7 separate regions of the Homo sapiens genome follow, and regions 1, 2, 3, 4, 6 and 7 are each linked to region 5. Evidence: fine-mapped expression QTL. A gene starts in region 5. Each other region holds a variant in brackets. All regions are shown on one strand. Distances are between the middles of the regions.

Region 1 (4,000 bases), 130 kb after region 5:
TCTTTGATGCCTTCTGATGTCTTCTCTGCAAAGCCTTTGTGTCATCTTTACTAAGTTAATTCTTACTCTATAATATATTGCTATTATGTGGGTTATATTTTATTATTTCTGTTTACCACTTATTTCTAAATTGAGCACTTAGCTCACTTGTTTTCATTCATTCATGTTTACTGATAAATGTATTTTACTATAAATGGTCATTTTAGTTGTGTCTATGTCTCACAACTTTGTTAGATAGTGTTTTATTATCAATCAGTGTTTTGATATTTGTTTCAAGATTTTTGGAAGAAACCAAGGGGTGATTAAGTGTATTGTTTAGGTTTCTGCCATATGTGCTTATAAAAGAAAAGATTATTGGTTATTGATTTTATTTTGTTGCATTATAGGAAGCATAACAATTTTATGGTGTTGACTTTTTTTAACTATGTTGAGATGATTCTTTGTGCCTTAGTACTTAGTTGATGTTTTCATTCCTTTTGAAAAGAAGGTATGTTCTGTTATTATAAAGAGGGCGGGTGTGTTTGTGTACATTTTTTCAAGCTTATCGTCATGTTATTTGAAGATTATATTGTTCATACTTTGCTTGAAAAGTGACATTTAATGTATTTAATTGTATATATTATACACATATATGTTTTGCTACATGCTCATCTCAAAGAAAGTATTCAACTGTAATTGTCGATTTACTTTTTTTTTTTAGTAATTCTGTCTTGTGATTCTTTATGATTTTAAGGCTATGTTGTTAAGTACATATAAGTTCATGATTATAATATCTTCATCTATTCTTTCTGTTACCAGTACCTAGTGCCCCTCTTTCTTTGTTTATGTGTTTCCTATCAGCAACATATTTATTGTCTTTGTGTATGAATTGATGAATTGTAGCCCATTAAATTAGAGGTGTGCCCATTCCCAATTTCATTCTCTATTCTTTGCTTCCGGAGGTAACTGATATCCTGACTTTTGTCATAATCATTTTTTTGCTTAAAAAAAAAAGGTTTTACTACTTATGTATTGTCCAAGTCTGACATCGTGATCATTCATTATCTGAATCAGAAAAAAGTGGCTTTATGATGCTGTTAAGGGAAAGCTGTGCTGATCAGTCACAGTCTCCCTGAGCAGAACACACTACTGATTCTATACAAGGTTTTTGGAAGTATGAAGTTGAGAAGCTGGCCAACTTTCAGAGGTGGAAATGGGTTGGCATCAATTTTAGATGTATGGTTACCCAAGTTAGACTGTTCATCTTTAGAAGCATGTTCTTTAGAGTTAGTTCCTGTTTGGCTAAATTAAAGAAGAAGCTGCCAGTCAGTTAGTTGACTTGCAGATGCGTGTTCATTGAGGCAAGATATCAGGCGCTTTAAAATTAGTTTCAAGTGGGTCTGTGGCTGTACAACTCATATTTATTGACCAAGCTGATTTAAAACTGGTTTTGTGTGTGTATGGGTTGGGGGGGCGGGGGCGGGTGTTTGTCACCACAGCTACAAAAGGGTCAGTCTTGTATATGTGGGAATTTAAAAATTCTCAATATAATATCAAAAGTTGCAAAATAGTACACAGAAATCCTGTGTACCCTTCAGCCAGTTTCCCTAAATATTAAAATCTTA[A/T]ATAATATAGCTAGTAAAACCAGGAGATTAACATTGATACAGTCCTAGTAACAAATCTATATGACTTATTCACATTTCCCAATTATTCCACTTACCGTTCCTTTTCTGGTTGAGGATCAATTCAGAATACCACATTACGGTCATGTCTCCTTAAGTCTTCTCTAATCTGAGACAGTTCCTTAATCTGTGTCATTATGACCTTTACATTTTTGAAGAATACTCACTGGTTATTTGTATTGTGTTCTTCAATTTGAGTTTGGTATTGTTTTTATGATTAAGGTTTTGCGTTTTTGGCAAAACGGCTGCAGTCAAGATGTCATACCTTTCTCATTGCATTGTATCAGGAAGTCCATAATGATGGCACAACTTAATTTACAGGTGGTTCTAACTTGGATCATTTGGTTAAGGTAATGGAAGCCAGGTTTCTCCACTACAAGGTTACTGTTTCCCCTTTATAATTAAGAAATATCTTCTGGGAAGATACATAGATACTGCAACATTCTGTTTCTCACTTTCACCCACTGATCTTAGCATTCATTGATGATTCTGTCTTGCAGTGATTATTACTGTAATTTTTGCTAAATGATAAATTTCTATTTCCATTCTTCCCTTTTTTAAAAAAATTGGAAGTCTATTGTAAGAACAGACTGTTCACACCACATTTTTTTTATGAGGGCATCTGTGTTGTGTGAAGTTAATGCTTTGTTTACTTCACTAAACACGGACTAGCTAGCTAACCCTTCTCAGTATCAGGACTATCATATTCTTAATCTAGCTCAGCTTTTCAAAAACATACCCTCTCCCTCCTTATCCTCAGTTGGTTACTTTTGGGTGTCTTAGTGCTCATATTTGGTGGTAAGACTGAGGAAGCTGGATGACAATGGCATGAATAGGAATATATTGCCTAAGAGTAGGAACGAAAGAATGATTTTATTTGGGGCATAGTATTTAGCTGCTGTTGGGAATCCATGGAGAGGCGTATAGCAGGGAAGTGGAAATATGTATCAGGATGCAACTAGACTCTTAAAATGGCAAACAGACATGTAAAGAAACTGACGAGTTTCGTGTAAGAGCAGAGTGGGGATGTCAGCTCTAGTGGGGCACGAGAACATGGTGTCAGGCATTGCAGTTTAAGGACTGAGGAAAGTTTCAGTAGAGTTTTGTGTGAAATATGCTAGACTGTAGTGTGTTGAAGCAGGGAACAAAGTTCTTTTTAACTTTCGTTTTAGGTTCAAGGGTACATGGGCAGATTTGTTACATAGGTAAACTACGTGTCACAGGGGTTTGGTTTACAGATTATTTCATCAACCAGGTATTTTTCTGATCCTCTCCCTCCTCCCATCCACCACTCTTGTTAGTCCCCAGTGTCTTAATTCCTGCTTTATGTGGATGTGTTCTCATTGTTTAGCTCCCACCAAAATTCTTAACATGATCTAAAGGCCTTGTCTAACTTCACATAAGCAGGCTTGAGTTAAGTTCTTTTCTGTTTTTAAGACATAGGTGCCTTTTCTTCGTATCATTGTGCCTTTAAATATTCATGCATGTTCTTGCTGGAGAGGAATCCCATGCCTACCTCTAAATAGCTGTGGGATCTAGGGAAGATTATGTAATTCCCTAAAATTCTCTTGCCAATCTGTGAACATAAGGTGAATATTAACCTGGCTATTATTTCTCACCCAGAATCTTGCTGTCTCCTCCTAGTCTCCCTCCTTCTTCCTTTGGTCCCCATTGTCTCTTCTGCATGGTGTATACCCTAATCATGAAAAATGAAAACCCTGTGATGTCATTTCTCTGTGCACAGCATGCCATTGACTTGCTTTCTCATTGAGAAAGAACCCGACTATCATGACTTGGTAAGGGTCTGTGTGAAGCTTCATTTCTACTCACTGCCCTCATGCAGCCTGCCCCAGCTACACTTGCCTTCCCAAGCATCCTCCAGCTGCAGGGCCTTTTCATAGTCTGTTCCACCTGACTAGAACACTTTTTCTCTGCATATAACTGTATAACTCCCTTCCTCATCTCCTTTATTTAGATCTTTGTTCAGATATCATCATATCAGAGTGTCCATCATTGACTACCCTTTATAAAAATAATACTTAATCATTTGTTATTCCCCTTTGATTTGTTTTTATGACATTGACTGCCATCTCACATATATTTGTGTATTTGCTGTCTGACTTCTGCCACAAAAATGCAAACTTTTTGGGAGTTAGCACTTTGCCTGTTATTCACTGTTGAATTTCCAACCACTCCAACTGTACCTGAGACATGATCTGTGCTGGAATAAACAGTTATCGAGTTATCACTAACAATAAACCTTAGAAACCATTTATTATGATATGCCAGTGACTGTTCTGGGTGTTTTGTGTTTACTGACTCATTTATTTCTTGTAACA
Region 2 (4,000 bases), 180 kb after region 5:
TATCCTTTTCGTAAAAACTGATTTTGGAGTTTCAGACAGCAGAGATTTTCTAGTTTCTGTCCAGCACTGAACACCATAGGTTTGGAACTCACAGTCCTCATTGGCAGTCGCATTTAAGTACAGACCATAAGAACTTGGGTATATTCCTGCCAAAGGCGCCAACAGTTTTAGTTGGTGGAGAATGAGAGAGTTGTTTCTGTGTCCATAGGAAACTAACTCTGAATGATATCGTTTTCCTTTACTCCAGCTGCTTGAGCTTACTGGTTTGTTGTGTTGTTTGTTGCTCTCACTTCTTGGGTCTCAGCTTGTTAATGTGTAGGATGAGCAAGGTAACACCGCCTACAGAAAAAGCAGCATGTTTTCCCACATTCAGCTGAATGAGACAAATACAGTAAAATTGGAGTCCAGATTGTCTCTTAACATTGCATAGTTATTACTTTCAAACACATTTGCCCCAGTTACTTGGAAATTTTCCAGCAGATTAAATTATCGGGGAGAGCAGTTGAGTTCTTTACCACCACACACATTCCATGTCTAAGAGTTTGGGATGAGAAAATGAGGATCAAACCAAATTGACTCACTTTATTTAGCAAAGGGTTGATGGCTTCAATCCCTGTTGTAGAAGAACAGCACACAACTTCTTTTTAAGATTCTTAGTCATCAGATGCTGAGAAATAAGAGGCCAAGAGAAACAAGGAGGGCTTGAATTTAAAGGAGGCAGAGGGTAGAGAGTTGTTGGGTTACATTTGAAGAATGTTACGGGCGTAAAGTCTAACAGGACTTAGCTACTGGTCTAATGTGGGAGGAGGAAGAAGAAAATACAGGGCCTGGCCTCAGATTTCTGTCCCATACACTTAAGTGCTGTCTAGTGCTACTAGTCAAGAGACAATATTGAAGCAGAATCTGAACTGGGTGGGACTGCCCGTGATGCATTCAGCTGTGTAAGTAGTGAACTAGAAGTGCCTGGAGACTATGGGGGTCAAAGGGAAGGGGTATAGGAAAGAGTAAGTTCAGAGTGATAGAGTTGCAACCAAGTTAGATGTATATGTTAGGGTCCAGTCGGGTAGGGCCAATAAGCCACCACGGCTGAAATCTCAGTGCTCTTAGTGGCAGGTTTTAGATGTCTGTGAGAAACTGCAGTGGAACTGTCAGGTAGGCAGGTGTGTATATATATATATGCATTTTAACCTCAAGAGCAGATTCTGTTTCCTCGACTTCTATCTCCGTTACTTCATAGAATGTTTTAGGTTAATTTTAAAAAGCATTGAACAAATGAGCAGGTGTCAGTATATTATAATATTGCCAATAATTTATATATAAACCAGCAGCTGGTTGGGAATTAGGTACAAAGTAGAGAATTGACTTTTTTTCTGTACCTATTTTACATAATTTTTGATCACTGCATGTCAGTATTTACCTGAGTTGAAATATTCCTCTTAGAGTCATGAATGAATATACCAACATTTGGTTAATGTTAATAGAAATGTTTTGTCATTGTGTTCTGGTCCCTGTGTTCAGTTGACAACTGTTCCTTGCAACTGCTACCATATTCCAATTTATTGTATCATACACTTAAAGAGATTTTTTTATATTCCAGGGCTTTTGCTGGACTTATTTTCTATTAATACTTGTAGATGGGAGACATTTCTTACACTCAGAGCATTTGTACATTGAGGCAGCATGTTCTATGATAGAAGTTTGAAACTAAAGAAATCTGAACTGTCTTCCCACTTACTTACTAGAAAGTGAAACCTAATTTATCACAGGATAGAACTAGATTTTATTCATCCATATTATCTGTTTGAGAGTTTGCCAGAATCCAAGTTGTTATGGCAGAGACATGTAATTATTCATTGTAAAAGCACATCATTGAGTTTCAGCTGCGGGCTATACTCTTTTCTTTGGGGTAACAAGGCAGTGCATGCTCCCTTATCACCAACGTGGATCTTATATAAGTGCCATGTCTAAAAATACATTCAAAGCAGTATGAGACCCATAGGGATGTGGTGGTTGTTTCTTCCTGGTTTCTTCTATCAAGCAGAGCATCTTAGAAAAGGAGGTGTTTGAATTGGTCTCATAGCAAGTAAAAAGAAATCAAGTAGTTCTGGATTAGAATCACAATTCTTGTACCCCCTCGTTGTTACCTAATGTTTCAGTCTCTGTTTGCTCAGTAATATATGAAAAATAGTATCTCCCTTGCAAGGGTCATTGTGAAGACTTTGTTTATTTCCACGGAAGGGCCTACAGATGTCTTTTCTGGTATCATTTTTTGGTAGTGTGTGTGTGTTTGTGTGTGTGTGTGTGTGTGTG[A/TGA]ATCAGCGCCTAATAGCACTATATGCACAGAATTATACTGTTCCTCCTGTAGCCATGAATGAAGATCAGAATGCTCTTTTTCCAGCTGTACTCTGAATTTATTGAGAATAGATACCTGTTCTGATTATGCAGTGTATGCCAAGTGCCAAGCACAGAGTAGAATTTCCTTAGTGGATTTGTTCTAGGTCCAGAGTGTAGCGGGCCTGCTTCTTAGAGACTGCTTTATATTCAGCAAAGTCCCAAGGTACTATATTGTTAATTTATAAGGAGAAAAACATCATGTAGGTGGCTACAAGCAGTACTCAAATCTCCATGTCCAATCTGCATGCTCTGTTGTAGAGTCTGTCCTACATAGGTGATCATAAGCAGAGAATGTTTAGAAAGCCTGGAGTCAAACCAAGAATATGCTTTTCGGACTTTTGTTTATAGAGCATCTGAGGCTGACCACCTCACTTTCCATGTGATACATTTTATAGTCAAGCCTTGCTAACCTTGAACCCATTTTATTGCTCTTCAGTTTAAGTTCTGTGAAGCTGTAATTAATCCTTTTCAAAACAGCTATAATTCTCTTATTCCACTCTGTCATACTCACCTGTCAAAACCTCAGCCCTGGTTAAAACCAACTATTGGTCAGCTTACTTAGCTTTGGCCTTCTCTTTTGTCTTCATTTTATTTGCAGGTGCCATCTAGTCCCATGTATTTAAATACTTCAGCTGGTGGCTCTGAAATTTCTAGCAACAGTGCTGCCCTCTCCTGAGCTCCAGACTTAGATCCAAATGTCTCCTTGATGGTTCATGTTGGAAGACTTCAAGGTCAAACACATGTACAGGGTTAACATGACTTTATTTTTTTCACCAAGCCTGCCTCTTATGTTTGCCTGTTTGTTCCATCTAAAACTCTACTTTTCCTGGATTCTTTACTTTCCAGTTGTCTTGCATATGATCATCCAAATGTCCCAAAAGTGCCCATTTCTCTTCTTCACCACTACCTTGGGGTCCATGCCACTAGTGTTTTCTTGCTTGATCTGTTACAGTGACCTGACTGGTCTTTCTGCTTTCACTCCTACACACTCCCCCAACCCTCTGTGTGCAAGAGCAGAGCGAGCTTTTTAAAATAAAAGTCACATGCCTTAGGTAATCCTCCCATGTTCCACTATCTTGGCTCATTGAATTCCTGTCTTCAGGAATCTTGTCCTCTGCCTTACCTCAACCTCTCACTCTGGTCTTATTCATTTCCAGTAATCGAACCCCCTCCCTAATTGTGTGTATCCTTCTCTCTGACCATAGCTCCTGTCTTTCCAGCTCACTTTCTGTAGTATCCCAGATCCAGTAATCCTTGGATCCTACTAGGACCTTCAAGCCACTACAGACAGGCTATTACCTCCATGACCCCACCAAAGTATGCCATGCCCTCCTAGTTTACGGTGTACCTGACTTAGCAGCCACACCTCAACCTGGGCCCCTGGCTGCTCCCCATGTCCCTGACCCACTGAGATTAGCAGGTCACCTAATCCATCTTCCCTGTCTGCTGGGCCAGCCAGGACCTCCCCTTGAACTCCACTGGGCCCTTACTGGCCTGCTTGACAGCTCCACTTGGATTTCTGGTATTCTTCTGGCATTCTTTCTGACCTTTACCCACCAAACTGCTCCTCTCACAATTTCTGCCATTTCAGTTTAATGGCAACTCTTAA
Region 3 (4,000 bases), 350 kb after region 5:
TGTGTGCTTTTTTGTGTCTAGCTTCTTTCACTTAACACAATGTTTTTGGGATGCATCCATGTGGTGTGTTTGTTGTTTTCTTTGTTTTGTTTTGTTTGAGATGGAGTCTCACTCTGTAGCCCAGGCTGGAGTGCAGTGGCATGATCTCAGCTCACTGCAACCTCTGCCTCTTGGGTTCAAGTGATTCTCCTGCCTCAGTCTCCCCAGTAGCTGGGATTACAGGCACCTGCCACTGCACCTGGCTATTTTTGGTAGTTTTAGTAGAGACAGAGTTTCACCATGTTGGCCAGGCTGGTCTTGAACTCCTGACCTTGTGATCCACTCGCCTCGGCCTCCCAAAGTGCTGGGATTACAGGCATGAGCACCGCACCTGGCCTGTAATTTTTTTTTAATTGCTGAATAGTATTCTATTGGGTACATAGACTACAGTTCGTTTACCATTCTCCTATTGATAGATATCTGATTGTTTCCAGTTCGGGGCTTAATGAATAAAGTGGCTATAAACATTTGCATACAAGTCTTTTTGGGTAGGTATGTTTTTATTTCTTTTCTCTCTTTTTTTTTTTTTTTTTTTTTTTTTTCCTGAGACAGGGTCTCACCCTGTCACCCAGGCTGGAATGCAGTGGCACGATCCGAGCTCACTGCAGCCAGGCATCCTCTTGTCTCAGCCCCCTAAAATGTTGGGATTACAGGCATGACCCACTACAACTGGCCAACTGTTTGCTTTTATGAAGGTCTGTTCAAATCTTTTGGCTATTTTTTTAAATTATTTAATTTATTGAGACAGGGTCTCATTCTGTCACCCAGGCTGGCGTGCAGTGGTTCAATCATGGCTCACTGCCAGCTCCACTTCCTGGGCTCAGGTGATTCTCCCACCTCAGCCTCCCCAGTAACTGGGACTGCAGGCATGCACCACCACATCCGGCTCATTTTTGTATTTTTTGTAGAGATGCAGTTTTGCCATGTCACCCAGGCTATTACTCATTTTTTAAAAATTATTTTATGTATTTATTTATTTATTTTACAGCAAGTCTCACTGTGTTGTCCAGGCTGGTCTTGAACTGCTGAGCTCAAACAATCCTCTTACTTCAGCCTCCCAAGTAGCTGGGATTATAGGCGTGAGCCACTCCACGTGGCCTTTTGCTGGTTTTTAAAAATCAAGTTTTTTACTTTATTATTGATTTGTAGTCATTCTTTATATATTCTGGATATAAGTCCTTTGTCAGCTGTATGTATTGCAAATATTCTCTCTCAGTCCGTGGCTTGTCTTTTTATTTTCTTAACAGTATCTTTTGATGAGCAATAGTTCTTAATTTGAATGAAGTTCTAATTAATACTTTTTAAAATACTTAGTGCTTTTTGCATCTTCTCTAAGACATCTTTGCCTGCCCCAAGGTTGCATGATATTTACCATATTTTCCTCTAAAAGCTATATAGCATTAATTTTTAAGGTTGTTTGTTTGTTCATTTGTTTTTGAGACAAGGTGCCACTCTGTCACCTAGGTTGGAGCGCAGTGGTGCATTCTCAGCTCACTGCAGCTTCGACCCCTCAAGCTCAAGCGATCCTCCTACCTCAGCCTCCCGAGCTCGAGCGATCCTCCCTCAGCCTCCCGAGCTCGAGCGATCCTCCTACCTCAGCCTCCCGAGCTCGAGCGATCCTCCTACCTCAGCCTCCCGAGCTCAGGCGATCCTCCTACCTCAGCCTCCCAAGTAACTGGGACTTTCTTTTCCCTTTTTTTTTTTCCTTCTTGAGACAGGGTCTCACTCTGTCACCAAGCCGGAGTGCAGTAGCATAATCAGAGCTCACTGCAGCCATGAACTACTAGGATCTAGGTGTATGCCACCAAGCCCGTCTAATTTTTATATTTTCTATAGAGATGAGGTTTTGCCACGTTGCCAGGCTGGTCTTGAACTTCTGGGCTCAAGCAATCCTCCTGCCTGGGCCTCCCAAAGTGCTGGGATTACAGGCATAAGCTACTACGCCCCGCCATATTAGTTTTATATTTAGGTCTATGATTTATTTTGAATTAGT[G/A]TGAAGGATGTGAGGTAGATGTTGAAGTTCATTATTTTCCATACGGAAATCCAATTATTCCAGCACCATTTGTTGAAAAAAATCTTTCTCCATTGTCTTGCCTTGGTACCTTGGTCAAAAACCTATTGGCCATTTATGTGTGGATTTATTTCTAGACTTGCTATTCTGTTCCACTGTTCTCATCTGTTCTTATGTCTATGCCACATTGTCTTGATTACTGCAGCCTTATAATGACTCCTGAAACCAAGCGTAGTCAGTCTTGAAAGTGGCTATTGCAAATCATCCAATTTTGTTCTTTTTCTCCAAGATACTTATTTTTGGCTCTTCTAACTCACTTGCAGTTACATTTACATTTTGGCACCAATTTGTCAACTTCCACGTTTTAAAAGGCCCCTTGGGGATTTTGACTCAGCTTCTGCTGTGTAACAACACGTGTTCCCCTCACTCCACCTCTGTGCATTAGCTGGCGCAGCTGCGTGTGGCTGGGAGGCTCTGCCTCCAGATGGACCTGGCTTCACATGCCCTCAGCGACCAGGCTGAGGAAGATGCAGGGAGGAAGGTTTCTCTAGGCCACCTGGCTGAGACCAACCTGGCAACCAGACGGGGCAACTGCATGTAAGCCTCTGAGGGCAGGACTGCTGACATCCTGTCGACCGTTGACAGTCACACGGTTGAGCTCAGCGCCACTGGGGTAAGAAATCAACTGTAAAGGGCAAGGGAGCGATGACTTTTGGATGGTAATCTCATCTATCACACCTTTCTGTAGACACCCAGACTCAATTAGGGTCACAAAAGATCCTTTTTTTTTTTTTTTTTTTGAGATGGAGTCTCGCTCTGTCGCCCAGGCTGGAGTGCAGTGGCGCGATCTTGGCTCACTGCAAGCTCCGCCTCCTGGGTTCACACCATTCTCCTGCCTCAGCCTCCCAAGTAGCTGGGACTACAGGCACCTGCCACCACACCCGGCTAATTTTTTGTATTTTCAGTACAGACGGGGTTTTACTGTGTTAGCCAGGCTTGTCTCGAACTCCTGACCTCAACTGATCCGCCCGCCTCAGCCTCCCAAAGTGCTGGGATTACAGGCGTGAGCCACCGCGCCCGGCCACAAAAGAACCTTTTGAAAGCCAGGTGACTTCAGTTGTAGCTTCCATCACCCTGAGGCAGGATGGCTGAGTCGCCAGCTGTGGGTTCTCACCCAGGACTGTCGGTAGGAGAGCAGCATGCGAGTTCTGGAGGATATCCTGGGAGGGGTCAGAGCACTGAGTCACTGTAACAGAATTTCCTTCCATTCTCACCCACGCTTCCTGGGACCGCAGCTGTAAGCACTGACATTCACAAACATGGGGAACGGGAAAAGAATTGTTGAAGAGCCCTGACTCCAGCAATGGGTCATCCGGTTCTTCCTGAGTCTGGGAATTAGAAAAAGAAAAGTCCACTATTTTCCTTAAGAGATTATTTCCAACAAAAATGTATGACTAATGAGTGACACTTTCATGACTAATAATTATTATTCAAACTTTGTAATATATTTGTGTTTGATTAGTTGTGTTCTGACAGTTGTAATGATAAGTAAGCCCAGAAGAATGTTTTCTAACACTTGGTCTCACAGGAAATAAAAATTTCAGATTTCAATTTATATATACTTTTTGTTGTAGACAAGTATATAGCATAATCAATAAGATTTTCAAACATAAAAATATCTCCTTAGGATAAAAATATGTGGAAGAATTAAAATGGAAAATGGGTCCTGTGAGGAAAAGAGTGATGTGAAATATTAAAGAAGAGGTGGCTCAGGTACAGTCAGCCCTCCATGCCCTCAGAGTCAACCAACTGTGGATGGAAAATGTAGTCAGGCCTATGATGGTTATCTCTGTACTGAAGGTGTACAGACATTTTTCTTGTCATTATTCTCTAAACAATACAGTATGATTATTTACTACATGGCATTTTACATTGTGTTAGGTATTAGAA
Region 4 (4,000 bases), 37 kb before region 5:
CAGTGGCTCACACCTGTAATCCCAGCACTTTGGGAGGCCAAGGCAGGCGGATCACCTGAAGTCAGGCGTTTGAGACCAGCCTGACCAATATGATGAAACCCCATCTCTATTAAAAGTACAAAAATTAGCCGGGCGTGGTGGCATGTGCCTGTAGTCCCAGCTACTCAGGAGGCTGAGACAGGGGAATCGCTTGAACCCAGGAAGCGGAGGTTGCAGTGAGACAAGATTGCGCCATTGCACTCCAGCCTGGGCAACAAGAGTGAAACTCTGTCTCAAAAAAAAAGAAAAGGCCCCAGGCAGAGACAACCCTGCAATAACCTCCTAATCGCCTTCCATCAGGGTACAGGAAGGGCCAAGCAGTGGGAAATCCAGGAGCAGACACTGGTGTTGGGCATGAGAGTGGCATGATTCAGGAGGATGTGTACAGGCAGCTGCTAGCCAGGCACAGGGCTGGCCATAGAGCAGGACTCTTTAGGGGACGGCAAGGGGGCAACCTGGGGGCAAAACTCCAGGCTCAGAGAGGATTTGAGGGATCTGGGTGGAGCCAGCTGGATGGCAGGAGTCGGGAGGGCTGTGTTTTTTCCTGGCCAGGAGACCCGGTGGGTGGGGTGCATTGGAGCAGAGAAGGATGGGCTGTGGGGCCTTGACCAAGCCGAGCACAGATCATGTCCCAAGGGCAGAGCCAGGAGAATCCAGGGCAAGTCCTGAGTGCTAGGATGAGACCCCATATTGGTTAAGACATTTCTCCAAAGAAGATGTGCGAGTGGCCAAAAAACACAAAAAAGATGCTCAGCATCATTAGTCATCAGGGAAATGCAAACCAAATCCACAGTGAGATGCCAGGTCGGGCCCATTAGGAAGGCTACTATCAAAGGAGAAAAGTGAGTGCTGGCTAGGATGTAGGGAAACTGGAATCTCTGCCAGGCCAAGTGGCTCACGCCTGTAATTCCAGAACCTTGGGAGGCTGAGGTGGGTAGATCCCTTGAGCTGAGGAGTTCAAGACCAGCCTGGGCAACATGGTGAGACCCCATCTCTACTAAAAATACAAAAAAGATAGCTGGCCGTAGTGATGCACACCTGTGGTCCCAGCTACTCAGGAGGCTGAGTTGAGAGGCCTGCTTGAGCCTCAGAGGTCGAGGCTGCAGTGAGCTGTGATTGCACCACTGCGCTTGAGCCTGGGTGACAGAGCGAGACCCTGTCTCAAAAAAGAGAAAGAAATTCGAATCTTTGTGCACTGTTGCAGGGAGTGGCAGGTGGTGTGGCTGCTGTGGAAAGCAGTACGGTGGTTCCTCAAAAACTCAAAATAGAACTACCATATGATCCAGCAACCCCGCTTCTTGGTTCATATCCCACAAAACTGAAAAAGGGACTCTCACAGATATTTGCACACCCATGTTCATGGCAGCATAATTCACAATAGCGCAAAGGTGGAAGCAACCCAGGTTTCCATCTACAGATGAATGGATCAACAAAATGTAGAATATATCAAACAAAACATGATTCAGCCTTAAAAAGTATGAAAATTCTGTCCACGCTACCACATGAATGAACCTTGAGGACATTATGCTTTTGAATTAAGCCGGCTAGGAAAGGACAGATGCTGTATGAGTCCACTCACATGAGGTGCCTGGAGGAGTCACATTCTTGGAGACAGAAAGCAGAACAGTGGGTGCCAGGGACTGTGGAGAGGAAGGAAGGGGAGTTAGTGTTTAAAGTGGGGATGGAGTTTCAGTTTGGGAAGATGAAATCGTTCTGGAAATGGATGGTGGCGATGTGCGTACAACACCAGGAATGTACTTAATGCCACTGAAATGTACACCTAAAAATGATGAAGATGGTAAATTTTACGTTACACATATTTTACCACAGTTAAAACAACAACTGTAATTGTTTTATTATTTTTCACAATCCCTGTGGGTGATGAGTTTGGGAAGGGCTTGGTTGGGGATTCTGGTTGGTTCTGGATGGTTCTGGGTGGTTTTGGCTTGAGGTCTTTCATCACACTCTTACCTCCTTGAAGGCAGGAACCAAGTCATAGTTATCTAACTGACTAACTGGCTCTTCCAGCCTGGGGGGCCTCTGGGAGCACTCAGACCCTGGACAGCCAGGCAGCAGAGGGGTTCAGGAGCCCAAGGCCCACTGCCAAGAAGGAAGTGCCAAACAATAGCCCCCAAGAGGCCTGCCACTCTCACAGCCAGATTTGCACTTCCAGGGACAAAGGAGATTTCCTCTGTAGGAAATGATACCTGAGGGAGGGCTTCCTGCGGGAGCAAGCCAAGAAGGG[G/C]CTGGGGAGGAGGAGAGCAGCGGGGAAGTGAGCTCTGGATACTCACGTCCCTGGTTCTGGGCACAAAGCCAGCCCACAGGCCACTAAGGGCCTGGCATATTCTACATGAGTCAGGCTCTGAGCCTGGAGGTCAGCGGCCAGGGGATTAGGGTCATGAAAACACTCCTTTAAACCCCGGCTCCCCGTGTACCCGCTGTGTGACATACAGCCCTCTCTGTAAAAGGGGGACAATGATGAATTCAGTGTTCACTGGGCATCTAGGCACTGAGGATAGGATTGCAAGACCCAGACCCAGGCTTGCCCTCAGGTACTTCACTGCCTTCCTAGGGAAAACCAACAAAAATAAACCAGCAGAGGCAAATAAAAACAAAACACCATGAAATCCGAGTGTGGGGTATTTGAAGGTGTTGATTCATCTCACCCCCTCACCTCTGCAATTGGAATTAATTAGGAAACAGAATCAGCAGGTGGTAAGGGCTGAAGTGTCAGCTCCGTGCTGGAAATGTGAAGCTGCTGGAGTTGTTCTGACTCATAACCAGATGGGCTCTTGCTCCTTCCTCCTGAATTAAACATAACCATCCCAGGAAGGGGCCGAGCAGGGCCAAACAGGGGCGGTGCCCACTAGGGGAGAGCTGGCCACGGGGAGCCATCCCAAGGGCCACAGGCAGGCTGGGCTTCCCGGACTCCTCAGACTCCCTCTCCCCAGGGAGTGACGGGGAGGGACCAGTGCTGTTCTGCCCCCACCCGTGGAGTCAGCCTGCCTCCAAGGAAACCCGAGGAGGGGGCAGAGGCGTCCCTATGGCAGTAACAAATGTCCTGAAGGACCCAAATAGAGGCTGAGATCTAGAGTGACGGGCTAGGGCAGGTGGTAACCAAGCCAGGAATGGGACGAGATGCCAGAACCAGCAGGTGGGTGGGTTTCTGGGTGTGTGTGTGTGTGGAGGGGTCTTTTCCAGAAAGATGGACTGCCAAGTGCACAGACAGAGGAGGAGACCCTGGTGAAGTCCCGGCCCAGAGCTCATCTCCATTGCGAGGGGCCTCAGGAAAGGGCGCCTTCCCAGCCGCTTCCCTGTCACCCTCTGCTTGGAGCTTGGAGCCAGGCCAAGGGGGAGGCCAGGAAGAGGAGTGCAGGGGAAACGGGGAGAAGGGGGGAAGACTGAGAACTACTTACTCAGGACCAGTCAGAGGGAGGGAGGGGAAGATGAAGGCTGGAAGCAGAGGGGCAAACGGTGGAGGCTCCACAGGTGGGGGTGAAGCTGGGGTGGAAGATGCGCCTGTCCCCAGGAGCTCTTGGTCTTGCTGCCAACTGACTGGGTGTAGTCGGTGGCTCACTCCGGGAATCCCAGCACTTTGGGAGGCTGAGGCGAGTGGGTCACGGGAGGTCAGGAGTTCGAGACCAGCCTGGTCATCACGGCCCCATCTCTACAAAAAAATACAAAAATTAGCTGGGCATGATGGTGCACGCCTGTAGTCCCAGCCACTTAGGAGGCTGAGGCACGAGAATCATTTGAACCTGCGAGGTGGGCAACAGAGCAAGACTCTTTCTCAAAAAAAAAAAAAAGAGGGAGCACGGGTAGCTGTGGAGTGATGGGTGGGCTCTTTGTAGGGCCCTCCCATCTCTGCAGTTGCAGAGCAGCCAGCTGTCCTCCCAGGTGAGGTGGGGTCCGATCATTGTCCCCATGTGTAACAGTCTGAATTGTGTCCCCCAGGAGATCT
Region 5 (4,000 bases):
TCCTTTGCATCACTTCTTCCCGCCGTTTTCTGATTTCTTCTTTTACTAAGCATAATAATAACCAAAGCTGCCCTTCAAGAACGTCAATTTCAAATGTATCGTGGCAGAGTCCAGGAAACAATATTGTGTAACACACTACCCTAAAACCTAAAGGCTTAAAACCACATGTATTTTATTGGCTCACAATTCTGTGGTTTGGCAATTTGGGTTGGATTCAGCTGGGCAGTTCTTCCATCAGTCTCTCCAGGTCTTATGTATGCTTCACAGGGGCTGGGTGGTCTAGTACAGCTCACTCACATGTCTGGAGGTGGCACCTTGTTGGCCAGGGTGCCTCAGTTCTCTTCCACACGGCCTCCTCGTGAGGCTAGCTTGGGCTTAAGGGGGGAAAATGAAAGCAGCATGGCCTCTTGAGGCCTAGGCTTGGAATTTGTACAATGTCACTTGTGACACATCCCATTGGTCAAAGCAAGTTACAAGATCCCATCCACATTCAAGGGGTGAATAAATTCCACCTCTTCTTGGGAAAAGTGTCAAAGAATTGATGGCCATTTTTAGTCTACTATGCTAAGTGCAGCCCCTTCCCCCAAAGTTATCCTTAATGCAGTCCCTTTGTGCCTCCACTCTCCTCTTTTAATTCCCATGCTTTTCTTATCCTTTTAATAATAAGCTCTCACTTCACATCACCCAAAGCTTCGTTCATTCACTTGACAAATACTTACTGTGTGCCAGGACCTATTAGTGAACAAAACAAAGCCCGTGCTCTAATGAATCTAAGATTCTAGTGGAGAGAGCGGACAATCAAGAAATAAACAAGAACACAGTGTTGGGCTATGGTGAACAATAGGTGCTTTGGAGAACAACAGAGCAGACTAAGTGCGGACTGTGTGTGAGGATAGCAGGGCAGTGGGTGGTTCCTATTATATGAAGTGGTCGGCTGTATCAATGAGGTGATATATAAGCAGGGTATTGAACGAAGTGAGGAGCAAGAAGTTCCAGGCAGAGCAAATAGCACGCGCAAAGGCCTGAGGCTGGCATGGAGAGGCAATTCCTTACAATTTCATATGTAGTAAAAAGTAACAAAACCCAGAAAAACACCAACCTTAATACATCTCATTAAAGAACAATACAACCCAAACATTTAAATATGGTAAAATCTTGATAAGCAAAAGCTTTTTATTTTACTTCATTTTTACTTTTATAAAAGCTCCTAATGCAATGACGTGTGTCACCTCTCTGGGCTTCAGGGTGTTCACCTTTCAAAAGGCCTCGGTGCCTGTCTGTCCTGCTTCCTGGCTTGTGGTTAGCATCAAAATGACACCATAAAAATGAAAGTTGCAGCCTTGAGGGTTCTTCTGGTTTCATTTCCGACCACAAGGTTGCCAGAGTGACTTTTTTTTTTTTTTAAATAACACAAATCAGTTATCACTTCCTGCTTAAAGCCCTCCAAAGGTTCCCTGTTGCCTAAAGAATAAACTCCAGGCACCTAAGCAAGCCCCACGCAGCCGTCTGCATTTTTCAATCCCTCCAACCTCGCCTTTTGCTATTTCCCCCACCCCACCTACGGCACGTTCCGGTCATAACCAACTAGCTCCTCGCTGAAACTGGCTCACACCGCGGAAGCCCGGGTCGGTGTCGGGGCGAGCCTTCCCTCCTTTTCCTGGAGCCCGTCTCAGGTCTGTAGCCCTCGGGAGGGATTGCAGGGCTCGTTCCCTGCTGGCGTTCATTTAGGTAACCTGTCTACCTCCAGTGGACTTCTAAGTCCCTTTCATGATTTTTCATCTTCCAAAATCAAATAATGGCCCAGCCCAACTTAGCTATAATGCCATGAAAAGAATCTCTGAGCCTCAGTTTCCTTGTCTGCAAAAAGGGCCCAGGAACCGCTCGTTAGGGTCGGTGTGGTGCCTGGAGAGTGCACTGCAAGGCCCGGGGCCCGCAGCGGGTGCCCGACAGCGGGCGTCCAACTCTGGGGGCGGGGCCGCAGGGCCGCTCAGGAGGGAGGTTCTCCAGAGGGGACCCCTTCGGGATTTGGGGGCAGGGAAGGAGATGGGGAGGACTTTCCCGAAGTCCGTCTAATCCCGCTGGCGGAGAGCGAGGCAGGTGGGACCCCAGGATGTCCGCTCGGCGGGGCGACCCCGGCCACCCCCGAGACCAGGGCTTTCCTCGTCCGGCCGCCACGCCCGCGCGCAGCCTCGGGCCACCCCGAAACCCCGGCGCGGTCACTACAGGACAAATTACGCGAGCAGAGCCTAGCGGCGCGCTGGGCATGCGCGGGGGCGGCGCGCATGCCCAGTCCCCCCGAGAGGCGGGAACTCCGGACTGAGACCGGGTCGGGCGTGCGCTGCCGAGAGAGGACGCGCGCCTCAGCCGGCTGCCGCGCACGCGCGCGGGCCCGCGCCGACGCAGCACGGCCTCGAGGGCGCGAGCCCGCGCCGCCGCCGCCGCCGCCGGTCCCGGACCACTGTGAGCCCGCGGCGTGAGGCGTGGGAGGAAGCGCGGCTGCTGTCGCCCAGCGCCGCCCCGTCGTCGTCTGCCTTCGCTTCACGGCGCCGAGCCGCGGTCCGAGTGAGTGCGGGGCGCCGGGCGCGGGGCGCGGGTCGGGGGCTGGGCGGGCTCCTTCTGTGCAGCGGTCGTGGGCTGGGCCGCGGCCCTGAGGGCGGAGGGGCAGAGCGGGGCCGCCCAACCAGTCCCGGGGCGGATGCGGCGGAGACCGGCCCCTCCCGCGCCCCCGGCCCGGGTTCTGGGAGGAGGGGAGGCCGGTGGCCGTGAGGAGGTTGGGGGCCCTCGCGGAGGCCGAGAGGCTTAAGGAGGTCAGGGGGCGCGCTGGGAGGCGGGGGTTCGGGGCGCTGGGTGGTCGGGAGGCTTGGGGAAGACTGGGAGGCTGAGGGACGTGGGGAGGCCGGGAGCTCGAGGAGGTCGGGGGTTTTGGGGGCGCGCGGGGAGGCCAAGGGGTTCGGGGAAGACAGAAAGGCTGGGGGACGTGGGGAGTCCGGGAGACGTGAGGAGGAAGGGGGGGGCGGCTTTCGAAAAGGCCGGGCGCGCGGAGAGGCCGAGGGGCCTGAGGAAGACGAGGAGGCCGGGGCTCTGGGGGCGCGCAGGGCGGACAGAGGCGCGGGGAGGACGGGCCGGCCTCCGCCGGAGCGGACCCAATGCCTGAAAAACAAAAGGGGAGAGGCAGGAGGAGGAAGAGGGAAATCGCAGGGACGTCGGCAGGGTTCGCCCGGACGCGAGAGGGAGGCTCGCGACGGCCCGACCTCCGTCCCCCGGGCGCGGCCTCGCGGGCAGCCAAGGGTGGGCTCCGAGCGGCCTGCCGGTGCCCGAGCCCCAAGCCCGCCGTGTCCCCGAACGCAAACCCTCAAGTTTGGTAGAGCCCCGTGGGCTTCTTGGCGGGAGCCCTGGAGCCCTCACTGAAGTCCTCACTGGAGTCATTGTGCTTCCCAAGTTTTCTCCTCTTCCCCGCCCCCAGCCCCCGACTCTGCCGCGGTGGCTTAGGCGCAACTGTTTGCCGAATTTCTCTCTGGGTTCCTTGTGTAGCGGCATCCTGTTCTTTCTTAGAAGAAGGGGTGTGTGTGTGTGTGTGTGTGTGTGTGTGTGTGTGTGTGAATTGGTTTCATTTAATTGCAGAATTTTGTAGCTAAATTCAGTGAGGGTAAAGTTTCTTTTTTTTTTTTTTTCCGAGTCATTTCAACAGTGTCTCATTCTTGCATAGTTAGCCTGCAGCTGGGTTTTTGGCAATGAGACTAAGATAATAGTAATATTGTAGTAATTATGGGAACTGGTTATACATTCAAGCTGAAAGCTGAAGGCAGTGCAAGAGTTTGGGGATTTGTATTTAAGACTTAACCATCGCTAGGATTTTTACTTAGAATGTAAACGTTTTCATGGCTGGAAAAACAGACCAGTACTATTTGAAATGAAATACCAGAGCCTCAACCTTAATATTTTATTTGGGAAACGGGTAATGAAAATGATGTCTTCGAGAGTTGAGCACTCCGTCCCATAT
Region 6 (4,000 bases), 24 kb after region 5:
CTTTTTTTTTTTTTAATTGACTTGTAGCTGTTCTTTCTATGTGTGGATTGCAATCCTTTATCATTATGTGTTGTGAATATTTTCTTCCAGTTTGTGGTTTGTTTTTTTTACCTGTGAGGTGTCTTGGAGCTAAAGTTCTTTTTTTTTTTCTTTTTTTTAATACTTTAAGGTTTAGGGTACATGTGCACAACGTGCAGGTTTGTTACATATGTATACATGTGCCATGTTGGTGTGCTGCACCCATTAACTTGTCATTTAACATTAAGTATATCTCCTAATGCTATCCCTCCCCCCTCCCCCCACCCCACAACAGGCCCCGGTGTGTGATGTTCCCCTTCCTGTGTCCATGTGTTCTCATTGTTCAATTCCCACATATGAGTGAGAACATGGGGTGTTTGGTTTTTTTGTCCTTGCGATAGTTTGCTGAGAATGATGGTTTCCAGCTTCATCCATGTCCCTACAAAGGACATGAACTCATCCTTTTTTATGGCTGCATAGTATTCCATGGTGTATGTGTGCCACATTATCTTAATCCAGTCTATCACTGATGGACATTTGGGTTGGTTCCAAGTCTCTGCTGTTGTGAATAGTGCCGCAATAAACATGTGTGCATGTGTCTTTATAGCAGCATGATTTATAGTCCTTTGGGTATATACCCAGTAATGGGATGGCTGGGTCAAATGGTATTTCTGGTTCTAGATCCCTGAGGAATCACCACACTGACTTCCACAATGGTTGAACTAGTTTACAGTCCCACCAACAGTGTAAAAGTGTTCCTATTTCTCCACATCCTCTCCAGCACCTGTTGTTTCCTGACTTTTTAATGATTGCCATTCTAACTGGTGTGAGATGGTATCTCATTGTGGTTTTGATTTGCATTTCTCTGATGGCCAGTGATGATGAGCATTTTTTCATGTGTCTCTTGGCTGCATAAATGTCTTCTTTTGAGAAGTGTCTGTTCATATCCTTTGCCCACTTGTTGATGGGGTCATTTGATTTTTTTCTTGTAAATTTGTTTGAGTTCATTGTAGATTCTGGATATTAGCCCTTTGTCAGATGAGTAGATTGCAAAAATTTTCTCCCATTCTGTAGGTTGCCTGTTCACTCTGATGATAGTTTCTTTTGCTGTGCAGAAGCTCTTTAATTTAATTAGATCCCATTTGTCTGTTTTGGCTTTTGTTGCCATTGCTTTTGGTGTTTTAGACATGAAGTCCTTGCCCATGCCTATGTCCTGAATGGTATTGCCTAGGTTTTCTTCTAGGGTTTTTATGGTTTTAGGTCTAACATTTAAGTCTTTAATCCATGTTGAGTTAATTTTTGTATAAGGTGTAAGGAAGGGATCCAGATTCAGCTTTCTACATATGGCTAGCCAGTTTTCCCAGCACCATTTATTAAATAGGGAATCCTTTCCCCATTTCTTGTTTTTGTCAGATTTGTCAAAGATCAGATAGTTGTAGATATGCATGCGGCATTATTTCTGAGGGCTCTGTTCTGTTCCATTGATCTATATCTCTG[A/T]TTTGGTACCAGTACCATGCTGTTTTGGTTACTGTAGGGAACTAAAGTTCTTAATTTTAATGTCATAAGCTTTATTTCTTTTTTCCTTTATGATGAGTACTTTTTATTGTTTTGATTTTTTTAAGGAATCTCTCTTTATCCAAGGGCTAAGTTTTGATGTGAAGTATTTTTATTTAGTTCATAAAGCATTTATTATTATTATTTTGAGGCAAAGTCTCATTCTGTCACTTAGGCTGGAGTCCAGTTGGACGATCACAGCTCACTGCAGTATTTTTTTTTTTTTGGACAGTCTTGCTCTGTCGCCCAGGCTGGAGGGGAGTGGTGCTGTCTCGTCTCACTGCAACCTCCGCCTCCTGGGTGCAAGCAGTTCTCCTGCCTCAGCCTCCTGAGTAGCTGGGACTACAGGTGTGCACCACCATGCCCAGCTATTTTTTGTATTTTTAGTAGAGATGGGGTTTCACCGTGTTGGCCAGGATGGTCTCGATCTCCTGACCTCGTGATCTGCCCACTTTGGCCTCCCAAAGTGCTGGGATTACAGACGTGAGCTACCGCGCCCATGCTGCACACTGCAGTCTTGACCTCCCAGGTTCAAGCGATCCTCCTGCTTCAGCCTTCTGAGTTTCTGGGACTAGCAGGTGTACACATTACCACACCTGGCTAATTTTTAAATTTTCTTTAGAGATAGGGTCCCACTATGTTGCCAAACTTGGTCTCTAGCTCCTGGGCTTAAGCAGTCTTCCCGCCTTGGCCTCCCAAAGTGCTGGATTTACAGGCAGGAGCCACCACACCTGGCCCATAAAGCATTTATTGTTCTATTTAATAAAGAAGTTTAATATTTAGACATATTTTGTAAATTCTACTGATTCCTTTGATGATTCATGATTTATTTTAAAGTGTTTGATAAATTACAAACAAATGAGCTTTTTTTCATTGTATCTTGTGACATTTCTAGAATTGGATTGTAGTCAGAAAATGTGTTCTGTATGTTACCAATTCTTTGAAATTAATGTTGTCTTAAATAGACCTATATTGTAGTAGAATTTGGCTAAAATCTTGGTCTCAACTCAGAAACTTTTAGGTACCTAGCCACTTAAACTCCAGCTATGCCTAAGTTATACCTTAGTTATGAAAAAAAGATTAGACTAACATTATTAGGCTTTTTAAAAAGTTAATAGAGTTTCTATTTTCTGCCTCTGGAAACACTTGTGTTGTTTTCTGGCTGAAGTTGAGGTGTTAATGTACATTATCAGCTTTTGGATTCTGTTCTACCCAAACTGAAGCTTAAAGACAAGTGACTGCCTCAACTGCCAGTTTGTTTTAGCTTAGCTGACAGGCAAGGAGTTCATGCTGTGACTGCAGCTGCTTTCCTTTCAGTGGCATTTGTTAATTAAGCTGTTTAATTTTGTGTTGCTTTCCCAAGGACTGATTCTTAAGGAAAAGAGAAAATTTTTAGCTTGTGGTTATTCTGGGACCTTTTAGCCTAGTGTTTATTTTGGGTGTCCATTTCATTTTTTTCTCCCCAGAAAGTAGCATTAACTTGAAAATTATCAGTTAAATAGTGGCTCAGAAATTAAATTTTATCTGTCTCCTGAATCTCAGGCATTAGTAATTGAAGTGTCTAGGTATTGTGATTTTTGTAGAGAGGTATTGTGTAAGTGTCTAGATATTGTAGTTGTGTAGTCTGTTTAAGAGAAAATGCATTTTATCTAAGAAACAAGACCCAACTTCAAATATTGGCTCTGCCTTTAGTCATGTGACTTTTGGCAAGTTAGTTTCTGTGCTTCTCAAGTCCTTATTTATAAAGTGTAGTTTTTATGGTCTTAGCCTTTGAGGTTATATGTGCAGTTACTGTGTAGAGTGGTATACAAATGTAAGGTGCTAATGTTGTTAATAGTATCTTTAACAGACGTAAGTAGTGTTTTACTACTAAAGGCACAGGTCCTTTCCATTTAATGTGATTTCACCAGTTCTTGAGCTGGTTCATTCAGTTAATTCATTTGTTCGCCATTTAAAAAATACTGTTTTGTGCCTGGTACGGTATTAAGCCCTGAAGGTATAGACTTGAGGGGGAGTGAGACTGTTATAGTTCCCTGGCATGCAGCATGATGTGTGCAGTTGTCTCTTAGCGTGCTCAGGCAATCTGGAGGGCAAGTCCCTTGTGATGCCCAACCTCAGGGGTCGGCAGACTTCCCCTCTTAAAGGCCGGAGAGTAGAAACTTCAGCCTTCGGGGGTCGCATATACACATACAGCCTATCGCATTTCCTCTAATTTTTTCTTCCTTTCTTCCCCCTCCCCCCTCTCCTCAACGCTTTAATAATGTAAAAATCATTCTTAGTCCAGGAACCATGTAAAAACTGGCTGTGGACTAGATGTGGTGACCTCTTTGTAAAGTATTTTTCAGCGGAAGATGGGAAGTGGATTCCACTCATGTGCAAAGGCATGGAGGTGTGAGAGGCTGGGGTTTTGTGGAACTGAATATTTTTA
Region 7 (4,000 bases), 310 kb after region 5:
TTTTTTTTATTACTGCATGCACAATAATTTTCTAATGTGATACTATGCTTAAAACAGGATTTTAATTTTAAATGAGAAAGCCCTATCTATATAAAGCCTACTTTGTGTTTTGAGAAAGAAATATGTGAGCATTTTTCCCTCACATAGCAGATCCAGTCAGTCTGAATGAAAGATGAATGCCGAGACGGGGAACTAAAGAGCAGTGGCAAGAGGCTGTCTGTCTGAAGCCAGGCTGCTGTCCCTGCTTCTGCTACGCAGCAAGGCCAACAGCTCTCCTATTTTTTCCCTCATACCAGATTCCAGATTTGAAAGCAATACAGTATAGTGAAAGGAGAAAAGACTGAGCTATAAACCTTAAATTTGAAGTTTTCTAGAGCCATACCCACATGAAAGTAGAGACTGTAGCTAAGCCGAACTGTTTTTTTTTTTTGGCTTGTTTGTTTTTGTTTGTTTTGAGACGAAGTCTTACTCTTGTCCCCCAGGCTGGAGTGAAATGGCGCAATCTTGGCACACTGCAACCTCCGCCTCCCGGGTTTAAGCGATTCTCCTGCTTCAGCCTCCCGACTAGCTGGGACTGCAGGTGCCTGCCACCATGCCCGGCTAATTTTTGTATTTTTAGTAGAGATGGGGTTTCACCATGTTGGCCAGGCTGGTCTTGAACTCCTGACCTCAGGTGATCCACCCACCTCGGCCTCCCATAGTGCTGGGATTACAGGTGTTAGCCACTGCACCTGGCTGAGAATCTATTCTTTCTGATTGGCTGTCTTTGGCTGTATTGCTCTTCAGTTCCCAATAGGCACTCATCTTTCATTCAGGAGGTCCGTGTATGCTCTATGAAAAGAAAAAGCTCAAGTATTTATTTCATTCACAGAACACAAGTAGATTTTATATGGATAAGCCTTTCTCATTTTAAAATTAAAATCCTGTCTTTAGGAAAATACCACATTAGGGAATTATGCATTAAAGAAAGTCATTTCATGAAATGTATATGGAAATAAAAATAGATTAATTCATGTAAACACATGAAACAATACCTTATTCTATAGGCAAAAATATGAGTTGCATTTTTTGTTTAAGTAAAACAGTAAATATTTCCTGCCTGTAGAAGGTTCTTATTATCTGTTGACTGATTGAAGCCCACCTCCACTGTTTAAGAGCTGTGTTACCCCAAGCAACTAAATCTTTCTAAGTCAAGTTCCTCGTCTATAACATATCTCTTGTGCCTTGGATATTAATTGAAGCATTCCTTCAGCAAATATTTACTACACATCTATGTGCACAATGCTGCCAGGCACTTCTTTCATTCTGATAATGACTGACTGAGGTATTATTCTGCCTATTTTACAGGTGAGGAACTGGGCCTAGAGAGGTTATATGCCTTGTCCAAAGAGGCATGGACAATCAGTTCACTAGAAAAATGCACAGGGCATTCATTTCCTCCACCTGTTTGTCCGGTGTTCTAGCAGGTAACAGAGACGCAGCGGTGAGGCAGACAGCTTCATAGCCTCTGTCTTCATGGAACTTAGCATCTCATGATAAGAAACAAAAATGGTCAACTATTTGGGGAAAGGGAGGAGGAGAGGAGCAAATTACAACAATATATTATACAGTATTTTCTTTATGAATTGGTTGAGAGTTTTAAAATGATAATACAGTGGTGTTAGGGTACAGTGAGAGAAATGCTATCACATATT[G/A]CTACATAGATGAAAATCAGGACAGCCTTGAGCAGTTTGGAAACTTATACCAAGATTTTTCAAATGTTCAAACTCTTTGACTTAGTAATTCCTTTCTTAGAAATCTGCTCCAGAGACAGGAAGATCACTTGAGCACAGGAGTTTAAGACCAGCCTGGATAACATAGTGAGACCCCCCACCCCCAACCATCTCTAAAAGAAGAAGAAAAGAAATCTGTCCCAGGGAAATAATCAGGGACTTAGTCAAAGATTTGTATACAAAGGTGTTCATCTACAGCCTATTTATGAGGGATTTTGAAAATGACCCTAATATCCAACAATAAAAGAACTATTTATTTTAACTCTTGTGTGGCACCAACTTAGTACTTTGCAAATATTAACTCATTTCATCCTCCTAACAATCCTATGTGTTGGTTACAATTACTGTTCCATTTTAGAAATGAAGAAATTGAGGCCCAGGTCACACAGCTTGTAAGGACTGGATCCTCATTAGAACCCAGGCCACCTGGTGCCACAGCTCCCACCCTTCACTACCATTGTCTATTTTATGATGATAATCATGCAGTGGAACGTTGTGCAGCCTTAAACATTGTTTTGTCAGTTTGCCCTATATAAATGTTATGTGAAGGCTGTAGAATCATATGTTGTGGTTCCATGTTTGTAAACATACATTTACACCACAGTATTAACTAATGATAATTACTTTTACATTTTAATTACTCCATAATAACTAATGATAATTACTTCCAAATGGTAAGGTTGAGTGATTTGTAATTTTTTCATCTATTTTTGCAGTATCTTAATTTTTCTACAGTAAGTGCATGTTTCTTTTGTTAGATTATTGACAAATGAGGTATACAATATTTTAAAATAACCAAAATCATGTAACTATTAAATGACCACATCGTAAGTTGGGCCTGGTGGGTCTTTTGTTTTCTTAGACTATAGCTCTAACTGGGCGTGGTGGCGTGCATGTATAGTCCCAGCTACTCCAGAAACTGAGGCGGATGATTGCTTGAGGCCAGGAGTTCGAGGCTGTAATGCACTATGATTGTGCCTGTGAATAGTCGCTGCACTCTGACCTGGGCGGCAGATCAAGACCCTGTCTCTTAAAAATAGAAACTGTTGGCCTGGCGCGGTGGCTCACGCCTGTAATCCCAGCACTTTGGGAGGCCGAGGCGGGCAGATCATGAGGTCAGGTGATCGAGACCATCCTGGCTAACCCAGTGAAACCCCATCTCTACTGAAAATACAAAAAATTAGCCGGGCGTGGTGGCGGACGCCTGTAGTCCCAGCTACTCAGAAGGCTGAGGCAGGAGAATGGCATGAACCCGGGAGGCAGAGCTTGCAGTGAGCTGAGGTCATGCCACTGCACTCCAGCCTGGGAGACAGAGGGAGACTCCATCTCAAAAAAATAAATAAATAAAAAATGAAAATAAAAACTTGTCCTTTCTGCTACAGTAGAGTCAAACCTAATCACCTCCACTCTCTGTTTAGAGCCCTTCAACAGAACCCCTAAGCAGAACCAGCTCCCAGCTGGTCCCTCAAGTGAATGGGCAGAAGAGGAAAGGATAGTTTCAGAGTTTTTTAAAGTTACAAGAATGGTACAAAGAATTCCCATGTTCCCTTTACCTAGAGTCTCCAGTTGTTAACATTTGACCTCATTTGCTTTGCATATTTGTACATACCATTTTTTCTGAACCATTTGGAAGTAAATACCAGATATCCTGCTTTTTAACTCTTAAATAGTTCAATGTGAATTTCCTAAAAATAAGGATGTTCTCTTAAATAACCATAGCTGAGTTAACCAATGTCAGGAAATTAACAATAATACAATACTGTTAGCTAATCAATGGACTATTCATATTTTACCAGTTGTCCACAGAATGCCCTTTCTAGAAAAAAGTCCTGGATCATGAGTTATATTTAGTTATCACATCTCTTGAGTTTCCTTTAAGCTTGAACAGTTCCTGGGTCTTCCCGAAATCTTTCCTGACCTTGATATTTACATTGAGTAATGTTCTGTGAATTGTCAACCTGGAGTCTCGTCTTCTCAGGTACTTTTTCTCAAAGTCCATTGTGTTTTGGAATATTTTTTCTTAAGCATATCTGGGATGTTTGGGCCCCACAAAGCTGCCTCTTCATTCAGGCAGTGGCAGAACCTCAGCATTCCATGGAATAGGATCTGTGAGTTCTGCTACATGGAATAGGACCTCCCCAGTGAGTTCCCCTTCAGTTGCCAGTTGGAATCAATGTATTACGTGTGTTTGCTTGGTTTCCTTTCTGTCTATTCATGTCTATCTTACC

Alleles and levels. Alleles are on the strand shown, and positions count from the first base shown. SD is a standard deviation of normalised expression in the study named. Not every link is listed here.
With allele TGA in place of A in region 2, the expression in monocytes after LPS of the gene that starts at base 2,405 in region 5 is lower (moderate effect, 0.50 SD a copy in Quach 2016).
With allele G in place of A in region 7, the expression in amygdala of the gene that starts at base 2,405 in region 5 is lower (small effect, 0.30 SD a copy in GTEx).

The links. PIP is the estimated chance that this variant, and not a neighbour inherited with it, causes the effect. A credible set is the group of variants that fine-mapping cannot tell apart.
Region 1: its variant is the best candidate, but not a certain one, in a credible set for the expression of PTK2 in whole blood (TOPMed, PIP 0.71).
Region 2: its variant is the best candidate, but not a certain one, in a credible set for the expression of PTK2 in monocytes after LPS (Quach 2016, PIP 0.81).
Region 3: its variant is the best candidate, but not a certain one, in a credible set for the expression of PTK2 in whole blood (TOPMed, PIP 0.60).
Region 4: its variant is the best candidate, but not a certain one, in a credible set for the expression of PTK2 in nasal epithelium (TOPMed, PIP 0.83).
Region 6: its variant is the best candidate, but not a certain one, in a credible set for the expression of PTK2 in whole blood (TOPMed, PIP 0.89).
Region 7: its variant is the best candidate, but not a certain one, in a credible set for the expression of PTK2 in amygdala (GTEx, PIP 0.51).

The regions. Positions count from the first base shown.
Region 1 is chr8:140,866,573-140,870,572 of GRCh38, reverse strand. All of the region lies in intron 4 of PTK2 (protein tyrosine kinase 2), which reads left to right. Among named protein-coding and RNA genes, the nearest start is that of PTK2, 130 kb to the left of the region's middle. The variant A/T (reference allele first, on the strand shown) is at 1,605.
Region 2 is chr8:140,820,661-140,824,660 of GRCh38, reverse strand. The region is part of intron 8 of PTK2 (protein tyrosine kinase 2); the gene reads left to right. Among named protein-coding and RNA genes, the nearest start is that of MIR151A, 90 kb to the right of the region's middle. The variant A/TGA (reference allele first, on the strand shown) is at 2,311.
Region 3 is chr8:140,645,291-140,649,290 of GRCh38, reverse strand. No RefSeq gene overlaps it. Among named protein-coding and RNA genes, the nearest start is that of AGO2, 12 kb to the right of the region's middle. RefSeq lists an enhancer at 2,784-3,983. The variant G/A (reference allele first, on the strand shown) is at 2,033.
Region 4 is chr8:141,036,898-141,040,897 of GRCh38, reverse strand. LOC124902030 (a long non-coding RNA gene) reads left to right here and starts at 2,861. Exons shown (of 2, transcript XR_007061121.1): 1 at 2,861-3,193; 2 at 3,994-4,000. RefSeq lists enhancers at 1,802-2,426, 2,427-3,052, 3,053-3,677. The variant G/C (reference allele first, on the strand shown) is at 2,285.
Region 5 is chr8:140,999,687-141,003,686 of GRCh38, reverse strand. It overlaps PTK2 (protein tyrosine kinase 2), which reads left to right and starts at 2,405. Exons shown (of 36, transcript NM_001352702.2): 1 at 2,405-2,562. RefSeq lists silencers at 1,971-2,390, 2,411-2,740.
Region 6 is chr8:140,975,417-140,979,416 of GRCh38, reverse strand. The region is part of intron 1 of PTK2 (protein tyrosine kinase 2); the gene reads left to right. Among named protein-coding and RNA genes, the nearest start is that of PTK2, 24 kb to the left of the region's middle. RefSeq lists an enhancer at 2,593-3,117. The variant A/T (reference allele first, on the strand shown) is at 1,516.
Region 7 is chr8:140,689,072-140,693,071 of GRCh38, reverse strand. All of the region lies in intron 29 of PTK2 (protein tyrosine kinase 2), which reads left to right. Among named protein-coding and RNA genes, the nearest start is that of MIR151A, 42 kb to the left of the region's middle. The variant G/A (reference allele first, on the strand shown) is at 1,695.